Linked DNA regions of Homo sapiens: region 2 is linked to region 1. The links come from fine-mapping of genetic effects on gene expression. A gene starts in region 1. The other region holds a variant in brackets. All regions are shown on one strand. Distances are between the middles of the regions.

Region 1 (4,384 bases):
AATGATGGTGGAAAAGATTGGTTTAACTATTCAGCAGGAAAATTTGGCAATTAGAAGTGTATCAAAAGCCTTAGAATGTTTCATAACCTTAGATTGGGAAATTCCACTTCTAGAAATTAATTCACTTCTAGAAATAATCATGAGTGTGCACAAAGATATTACCACAAAAATATTTTACAGTATTATGTCTAATAGAGAAGAACTAGAAATAATTTAAATTTCCACCAATACAGGTTTGCCAAAATACATTTTGTACATTCACCTAATGGTATATTATGTCCCTATTACAAATTATGTCCTAGAATATTTAATAGCATGGAAAAGTGTTAACAGTATTTTTTTAATGAAAAAAGCTTACAAAACAGTTTGTGATGATTCCATTTAAAATGTGTGTTTATTCATAGAACAAAGATTAGAAAAATAAACATTGATATATTAAAGGGTTATTTCATGGCAAATTGCAAATGATTATTTCCTTTTTTTGTGGCTTATTTGTATTTTTGAAGTTTTCTACAATGTAAAAGAATATTTTATGATATGAAAACTACAATACAATTTATAATATAAGAAAGAATAATTCGGCCGGGAACGGTGGCTCACGCCTGTAATCCCAGCACTTTTGGAGGCCGAGACCGGCGGATCACGAGGTCAGGGGTTCAAGACTAGCCTGGCCAACATAGTGAAACCCCATCTCTACGAAAAATACAAAAATTAGTCAGGCATGGTGGTGCGTGCCTGTAGTCCCAGCTACTCGGGAATTGCTTGAACCCGGGAGGTGGAGGTTGCAGTGAGCCCAGATCGCACCACTGCACTCCAGCTTGAGCAACAGAGTGAGACTTCGTCTCAAAAAAAAAAAAAAAAAAAAAAAAGAATAATTAACAGAAAATGGTTAGACACTTCCTTAGTGTCTCCTAAGTCAGGAGGACCCCAGTAGGGCAGGGATCCTCATGGCCTCCTCCCATTTGGAGCATTATTGGAGGTCTTTTTCGGCCTCTTCGTCAAGTGGAATCTAGCTTCCGGTAAAACTACAAAGTAACCAAAAGTTTGGGAGGTGGAAGAAATGCAACCGGTAGATCTCACAGAGTCTGTGCAAGAAACTGATTCAATGAGAATCTAGTTTCTCCGTCCACAGTTTCTCCAAACAGAAACTAAGGCCGACTTTAGGGGCTTGTCCAAACCTAGGCAAGCAACTTAACAAGGTGAGGCCATGACTCCATGGCCTTTCCGTTCTGTTATATGCTGACTTAGACTAAAGCTCTCATACTTTAAAGTGCACAGAAATCTAGTTAAAATGCAGATTCTGATTCAGGTTAGGGGTGGGCCTGAGAGTCTGCATTTCTAACCAGCTCCCAGGCGATGACCACGCACGGGACAGGTCTGGGATCACAGTTTAACTAGCAATGGTGTAGAACACAGAATCTGCAGCAAGAAGGCCAGCTTCCCAATCCTAGCTCTGCCACGGACCAACTGAATGACAGTTGCCTCGGTTTCCGAGTTTTCGTGAAGATGTAGTGAGTCATTACATCGTGAGGCTTTCGAGCAGCGTTCACTAAGAACTAGCTCTGACATTATTTATCGCATTCCTTAGAGCAAGCAGCCGGTGAAGTAGGGTTTGACGAATGAATAAGTGAATGAATGACCTTTGGAGAAAAATTGTTTCCTGGGTGACTAGAGTCCGAGAAGCAAAATGGGAGGGCCCGTGGGTGGGTAGGAGGCCCACCTCCTAGAAAGTTCTCTGCACCCGGTGGTCCAGAGGGCCTGGAGTGCCCGGAAGCCGGCCGGCTTGCGCTCAGCGGCCCAATGGGGCCGCGGGAGGGAGGGGAGAGCGCTCAGCCAACCCTTTCCGTCCGGGGCGCCGCAGCCCCGCCCCTCGGAGCGTTGCGACGTCCGAGCATTCCACGGTTGCTACATCGTCGCGAGGGGCGGGGCGCCTGTCAGGGAAGCGGCGCGCGCGCGCGGGCGGCGGGCGGGCTGGGGATCCGCCGCGCAGTGCCAGCGCCAGCGCCAGACCCGCGCCCCGCGCTCTCCGGCCCGTCGCCTGCCTTGGGACTCGCGAGCCCGCACTCCCGCCCTGCCTGTTCGCTGCCCGAGTATGGAGCTGCTGTGTTGCGAAGGCACCCGGCACGCGCCCCGGGCCGGGCCGGACCCGCGGCTGCTGGGGGACCAGCGTGTCCTGCAGAGCCTGCTCCGCCTGGAGGAGCGCTACGTACCCCGCGCCTCCTACTTCCAGTGCGTGCAGCGGGAGATCAAGCCGCACATGCGGAAGATGCTGGCTTACTGGATGCTGGAGGTACCGCCCGGACGCGTCCCCCTCCCCCACCGCTCCCGGGTCTGGACACACCGGGGCCGCCCTGTCGGGACATCCCGGTCCCCACAGCAATCTGCAGGATGCTCCGAGGCTAAGACTCCCGGGGCCTGGCCTTTCACTAGGGCACCCACGCCAGCTGCCTCCCTTGCTTTCCCGAGCCCTAATCGGCTCCTCCCGACAGTGACTGCCAGTCACTTGGCACCCTAACTGTGCCTCTCTTCGGGCCGAGCAAACGGGACCAAGGACACTCTCTCCCCTTCGGCTTCTCACAGCGTCTCCCGCTTCCCTCCGCCTCCCGGCCTTCTCCGGAGAGCGCGCCTGGAAAACCCTGGGCTCGGCCGCCCCCGCCCGGGAGCCGGTTCCTGTGTCTTTCGCGGGGTTCTGGCGGGGAAGGCGATGGGGGTGGCGCGCGCCCTGTTCCGGCCGACAGGGAAATGAAAAGTGCAGGAGGCAGCGGCAGGAGCCTCCTCCCTTCCCCTCGGGTGTGTGCAGTGGTGGCGGTGATGGGGGTGAGGTCCCAGCTCTCTGGCTACCATGGGTGACCCTTGCGTCCCACTTCCCCTCGCTGTGGGGGAGGGGAGTCTCCGTTTGGAATCCTCCGTGAGCAAGGGCTCCTTGGCTTTACCACTCCCCCGTCAAGGGGAGAGGGGAGGAGGCCGCGCAGAGGAAGTGGGGGGCGTCACCTTGGGGAGGGCGCATCCTCCTCCTTTATTGGTCCTTGTCTCTCTAAGTAGCTTACCCTCTCTGCCGTTTTTGCTCCCTATCCCACCTCACTTCAGCGCTCCCACCCCCCCGCTGCTGTGTTCCCCACGCTCCAGACCCAGCAGTGACTGTGCGCCCTCCCCCAGGTATGTGAGGAGCAGCGCTGTGAGGAGGAAGTCTTCCCCCTGGCCATGAACTACCTGGATCGCTACCTGTCTTGCGTCCCCACCCGAAAGGCGCAGTTGCAGCTCCTGGGTGCGGTCTGCATGCTGCTGGCCTCCAAGCTGCGCGAGACCACGCCCCTGACCATCGAAAAACTGTGCATCTACACCGACCACGCTGTCTCTCCCCGCCAGTTGCGGGTGCGTGTGTAACTCCCCCCACCCCCGACACGTATTGTCTCCCCACTTTCCAGGAAAAGGAAAGCTTGAGATATCAGAGGCTTTCTGCCCCCTGGAGAGGAAGCAAGGGGATCAGGACCTTTGGGAAAGGAATTGGGGTGGAACAAACGATGGGGCATTGTGGTGTGATGGTTAGTATCACTCCCGCCCAGGCTTGAGCTGCAGGCAGGCATTAAACCCCCTCCTCCTGACCTCCAGGGGATGCCACTCCTTCCTGGTCTTTCCCCCAGATAGCAACAAGTCAAATTGCATGTCTACACTCACTAGTACTTTGCCTCTGGGTTTACGCAGCCACCATGAGTTATTTATTGGCAGCAGAAGGGCATGCCTGCACACCCCCACTGGAGTAGGGGAGTGGAATGTGCTTCATGTGGGGGAGGGGGTTTTGCCTTGGTTGAGTCTTTATCCTCATGTGGACTTTGTGATAGAAAAGCCTCCCAGAGCCAATTAAAGCCAGGCCCTGATTGCTTTAAGGAAGGGCTGATGTATTTCATCCCACCTTCTTTGCTTCCTCTTATATCCCGGAAGAAACAGCTTCTTCCTAATCCTTCCTCGTCCTCATTCTGAGGAACTGGAGCAGCTGCTTTGGGCCTGGTGGAAACAGCTCCCTCTTCCCCCCTTAGCCCAAGGCCCAAGCTGAGGGACAGACAGGGAGGTGAGCTGCATCTGCTTCCGATGTGATAATGGTGCCCCCTCCCCTGGCCCGCCCTCTCTGACCAAGGTCTTTCATAACCCTGTGGGGAGCTGCTGTCACTCCTGTGGTTTGGGAAGTGGCTCCCTGGGCCTCTTGCTGGAAACTTGGGCTGGGCTCAGGCCGGGCAGGAAAGTCACCGGTTCTGTCCCGCCTCAGAAGGAGCCTGGGGAGGAGGCGGGGGAGCTGCTGGATCTGGAAGAGGTTATTTAGGACATGCAGATTGTCTCCTAGGGAGGCTGGGGGAGAGGGTGGGTGAGCTGGCACCTTCCTCCACCTTGC
Region 2 (4,384 bases), 100 kb before region 1:
AACACCTACTATGTGCCTGGCATTATATGGAATGCTGAGGGTGCAATGATGTTATTCATCCACAGCTAATATGGATCACAAAACAATAGACATAGATGCCAAGTACACTGGCTGGGGTGGCTGGGAAGGCTTCAGAGAGAAAAGGACATTTGAGTTGGGTTCAGAAGGATGAAAAGCATAGAAGTCTTTGGGGGCACTTATTCCACAGAACTGGATTGAACCCCAGCTGTGGTGTTGGACACTGGAATATAGGGGCGACCCAGAAACAATTCCTGCTCCCTTTAATCCACTGTCTAACCATCAAGGGAATGAACAGGATGAATCCCAGAAAAGGCAGTTTTCTGGGCTGGGTCCCAAGAACCCAGGAATTCCCAGCTGGGTACAGCTGGGAGGGTCCACCTGGGGGTGATGTGACAGTCCACACAATCCTGGGCACCCCCTCCTCATCCCTGGACTCTGAGACTGTTTCCTCTGACGAGTCCTTGCCCTCTGCCTACCACCTCATTTCTCTTTGGGACCAGACGTGGATAGAGAAGTGGATCTCCCTTTGCTTCCTCACAGATTCTTCTGGCCGTTCAATTCTGGGGCTCCTTCGGGAAATGACTGACACAGCAATTTATGAATTCATTCAGCACCTATTTGCTATGGCCATACTCCATCTGCACAGGCTATTCCCACAGCTGTTGGGGATGTCATGGTAATCAAATCAGAGTTTCTTCCCCTGGAACTTAACACTGAAAGCCTCTGATAATTGTAGCAGAGTTCTAGTCTATGCCAGTTATTGAGATCATGACCTCCATGGTCCCAAACATCTTCTCCTTCCGGCTTCCCCTTCCCTCAAGGGCTTAGAATACTAGCTAACAGTTACATAACACTGTCAGGTACTCTTCTAAGTGGCTTAGAGATCATATCTCATTTAAACCTCCTAATATAGTCCTATGAGGTAGGCATTAGGATTCTCTCCATTTTATAGACGAGGAAACGCAGGCACTGGAGATAAGTAATCTTCCTTCAGACACAAGAAACAAATGGCAGAGCTGGGATTTAAACCTAGGTCACTTGATTTGGGAGGCTTTATTCTTAACCATTAGGCTAGCCTGCCTCCTTCGCTGACCACAAAAAATGTGCACTTGAGCCAGGAACTTAGGAGTTTCCTAAAGGGAGTCTGTGGTCCTGTATCTTGGATGATACAGCCATCTGTTAGCTGAGCCATAGGGCTGGTACTGTTTACAGTGAGCCCAGCAGGCCTGGAATAGAGTTGTGGGAACTGCACAGAGCTGGTATCCTTTCCTGATGGCTGTGTGTGTGTGTGTGCGCGCGCGTGTGTGCGTGCACACAAACGTATGAATGTTTCCCCCTGTGTAAGCCTCACTCAAAGGGAAAGGAGGAATATGAATAAACCGGGAGGAATGAACTAAGATTATATTCAAGAAAGAACTTCTCAACTTGGACGTGATGTGCCAGAATCTGGGGATTTGGGAAACCAAGACACCTCTTTTGTTGGGAATTAAGAATAGCAGAGATGCTCACATTCTAGATGTGCATTCCAGCTTGGTAGATGAGTAAGGAAGATGGCCAAGGAGTGGGTCCAGGCTTAAGATGCTCACACCTCTCTTTCCCACAGCTCCTGCTTCCAAAGCTGCATCTGTATATCCTACCCAGTCCCTCCAGACAGGCTGGGATAATGCTGGTGATGCAAGCGAGAGCACGGGACAGTTTCCATGGATTCCAGCCCCTTTTCCACCTCCTTTCTGAAACGCTTTTAAATTTCTTACAAGGGCCCTCCCCACAGGTTTGGGGAGGCCTTGAGGCGGTCCCTCTCTGCCTGCAGTCAAAGCACTTCGTGCATCTGTCTTTGAGAAAGGGATGTGTGTTGGGGGCATGGGTATTGATGCTGGGAGTCGAGGGTGGGAACTGGGTGGAGGGTGGCTGCACTGAGAAAACGGGTAAGCAGGACGTGAACCTTAAGAACTATAAACCTCCAAGCTGCTCTTCTCCCACGCACGCACCTTCCTCCCTCACTCGCTGGTAGGGTGGGGTGCAGCGGAGCCCTTGGCACGCCCTGGCCCCCTGCCCCAGGCACTGGCTTGGCTGTGGAGAACAGGTTGTACTCTTGAAAAACCACAAGAGGAAGTTTAGGGAGGGCTGGGGGTGGGGAAAGTTCTGGGGCCCCTGCCAAGTTTCCCTTTCCCTGCTGAGCAGTAGATGTGTTTATCTTGCTCTCAAAGACATTTAAATTTTAAATCCTCAAGTTTCAAAGAGCTGTCAAGGCCTGCCCCTTTCTAGGGGTGGCAACAGACACTGCTAGAAATGGCATTGGAACAAGTTACCCATCTGTTGGAATTC[C/A]CCTGGGATTCGTGCAGGTTGAGAAAGGCTAATTCCAGAAAGTCTCTTCTTTGGCCCCTTCACTTTTCTCTTCCCCAAAGCATTTCCTACAACCTTTAAACTCAGAGGAATGTGGCTGTAATTGCCACTTAGGAGCTGAATGGTGTTGCGGGAGCTGTCCCTAAGTTTTTACTTGTACTGTCTCATTTAATATTTATTCACCACAACTCTAGGTAGTAAACACCTCTATCTCCAATTTACAGATAGGAAACTGAGGCTCAGAAAGGCAAACTTGCTCAAAGTAATTTAGCTAGTAAGTGGCAGAGCTTGGAATTGAACGAGGATCTATCTGATTTCAAAGTCTAGGCTCTTTACTCGTGAATTAACTCTCAGTCTGAGCATTGACTTTCCTAATATATCAAACACTGAGACAGGGAGGCTGAAATATAAAGGGATTTTTTTAAATGCTGCTGCTAGTATGGGAGAGGGATAGAATTGGAAGGGATTCCTTGGAAGTTAATGTATTTAAGAAAGGATAGCCACTGGGCACAGTGGCTCACGCCTGTAATCCCAGCACTTTGGGAGGCCAAGGTGGGCGGATCACGAGGTCAGCAGTTCGAGACCAGCCTGACCAACATGGTGAAACCTCATCTCTACTAAAAATACAAAAAAAAAAAAAAAAAAAACGTTAGCCGGGCGTGGTCGCACGGGCCTGTAATCCCACCTACTCAGGAGGCTGAGGTGGGAGAATCACTTGAACCCGGGAGGCGGAGGTTGCAGTGAGCCAAGATCACGCCATCGCACTCCAGCCTGGGCAACAGAGTGAGACTCCGTCTCAAATAAATAAATAAATAAATAAAAGGAAAGAAAGAAAAGAAAGAAAAGATAGCCAAGTTAAAAAAAGATGCAGGAGGTGAGAGGTCAGGTCAAATTCTGGAAGATTGCAGCAAAGGGGAAGATTTAGGAGGAATACTATAGCTGTATGCAAATATTTAAAAGTTTGCCCTGGCAAACCTTGAAGTAGGGGGTTAGTGGGACTAGTGGAGGCAGATTTTCAAAAAACGTAGAACTTTCTAACAAATGGGGCTTAGAGCTCATGCTATAAGAGGGGCCTCTGCCAGCAAGACGACCTCAAAGCCCCTTCGCCTGTAAACCCCTGATGTGATTTTCCCCCTGCTTTCCTCTTCTATGTCATTCTTTGCTCTCCCATACTCCCTGGCCCGTGGTAGTCCCTGATCGTCCACCAGGTGGAGCTGTTGCCCCGTGTGTCACCTTGGGGTGACTGGATTGGGTGAATGAAGAGTGTTGCCGGGTTCTTCAGGCGCTGACTGGTTTCAGGGAGCCTCTGCTCCCAGCCCATCACCAGCTGTTTACACACCGGGGCCCAGAGAACTGCTTTTGATCCAGCAAAGCCCCCGTAAAAGGTGCTCTTCTGTCTTGTCCAGGCTCCGGCCAGAACGTGCAGGCCTCCGCCTCTGCGGCATACACCCGTCCCCAGGTCAGGGATTTCTTCCACATCTTCTCTTTCCCCTTCCTGACTGTCCTTTCCCTTTGAGAGAGAGGGACCCGTGTGCCCAGAGCAGAGGGCAGGACCGACGGCCCTGCGAGCCAGCAGGGTAGCTAATGTGGCATGGCCTTTTATGCCCTTCAGAGGGCATGACACCTGTGTCATCTCCCGGAAGGGGCCTCAGGAGCCCCACCTCTCTGAAACTATTTGCACTCAGTGGCCTGACCAGTTCTCCCACCCTGGGTGAAATTCCCCAGGACAGTCGTTCCTGAGGTGAGGGCTGAGGGGTTATCTCTGGAAGGAGACGGTTGCTGGTACCTCCGTCGTTGGCCCAGATCTGCTTGCTGCCCCCTCAGACCTTTAGAGAGGCACAGAGCCACTGGGCCTCCAGGGACACAGAGGCAGAGCCCAGAATGAGCAAGGACACCCTGATTTTTTTGAGACAGGGTCTCACTCTGTCGCCCAGGCTGGAGTGCAGTGGCGTGATCTCGGCTCACTGCAGCCTCGACTTCCCAGGCAGAGTTGATCTCCCCATCTCAGCCTCCTGAGTAG

The links. PIP is the estimated chance that this variant, and not a neighbour inherited with it, causes the effect.
Region 2: its variant is fine-mapped to the expression of CCND3 in fibroblasts (GTEx, PIP 0.90).

The regions. Positions count from the first base shown.
Region 1 is chr6:41,939,358-41,943,741 of GRCh38, reverse strand. CCND3 (cyclin D3) reads left to right here and starts at 1,934. Exons shown (of 5, transcript NM_001760.5): 1 at 1,934-2,290; 2 at 3,157-3,372. The coding sequence starts at 2,093. RefSeq lists a silencer at 1,786-2,235 and enhancers at 1,752-2,703, 2,746-2,875, 3,957-4,251, 3,832-4,384.
Region 2 is chr6:42,043,585-42,047,968 of GRCh38, reverse strand. It overlaps a transcript of CCND3 not described here. Among named protein-coding and RNA genes, the nearest start is that of TAF8, 4.7 kb to the left of the region's middle. RefSeq lists enhancers at 1,743-1,792, 1,477-2,066, 2,093-2,242, 2,067-2,657, 3,250-3,299 and 1 more. The variant C/A (reference allele first, on the strand shown) is at 2,347.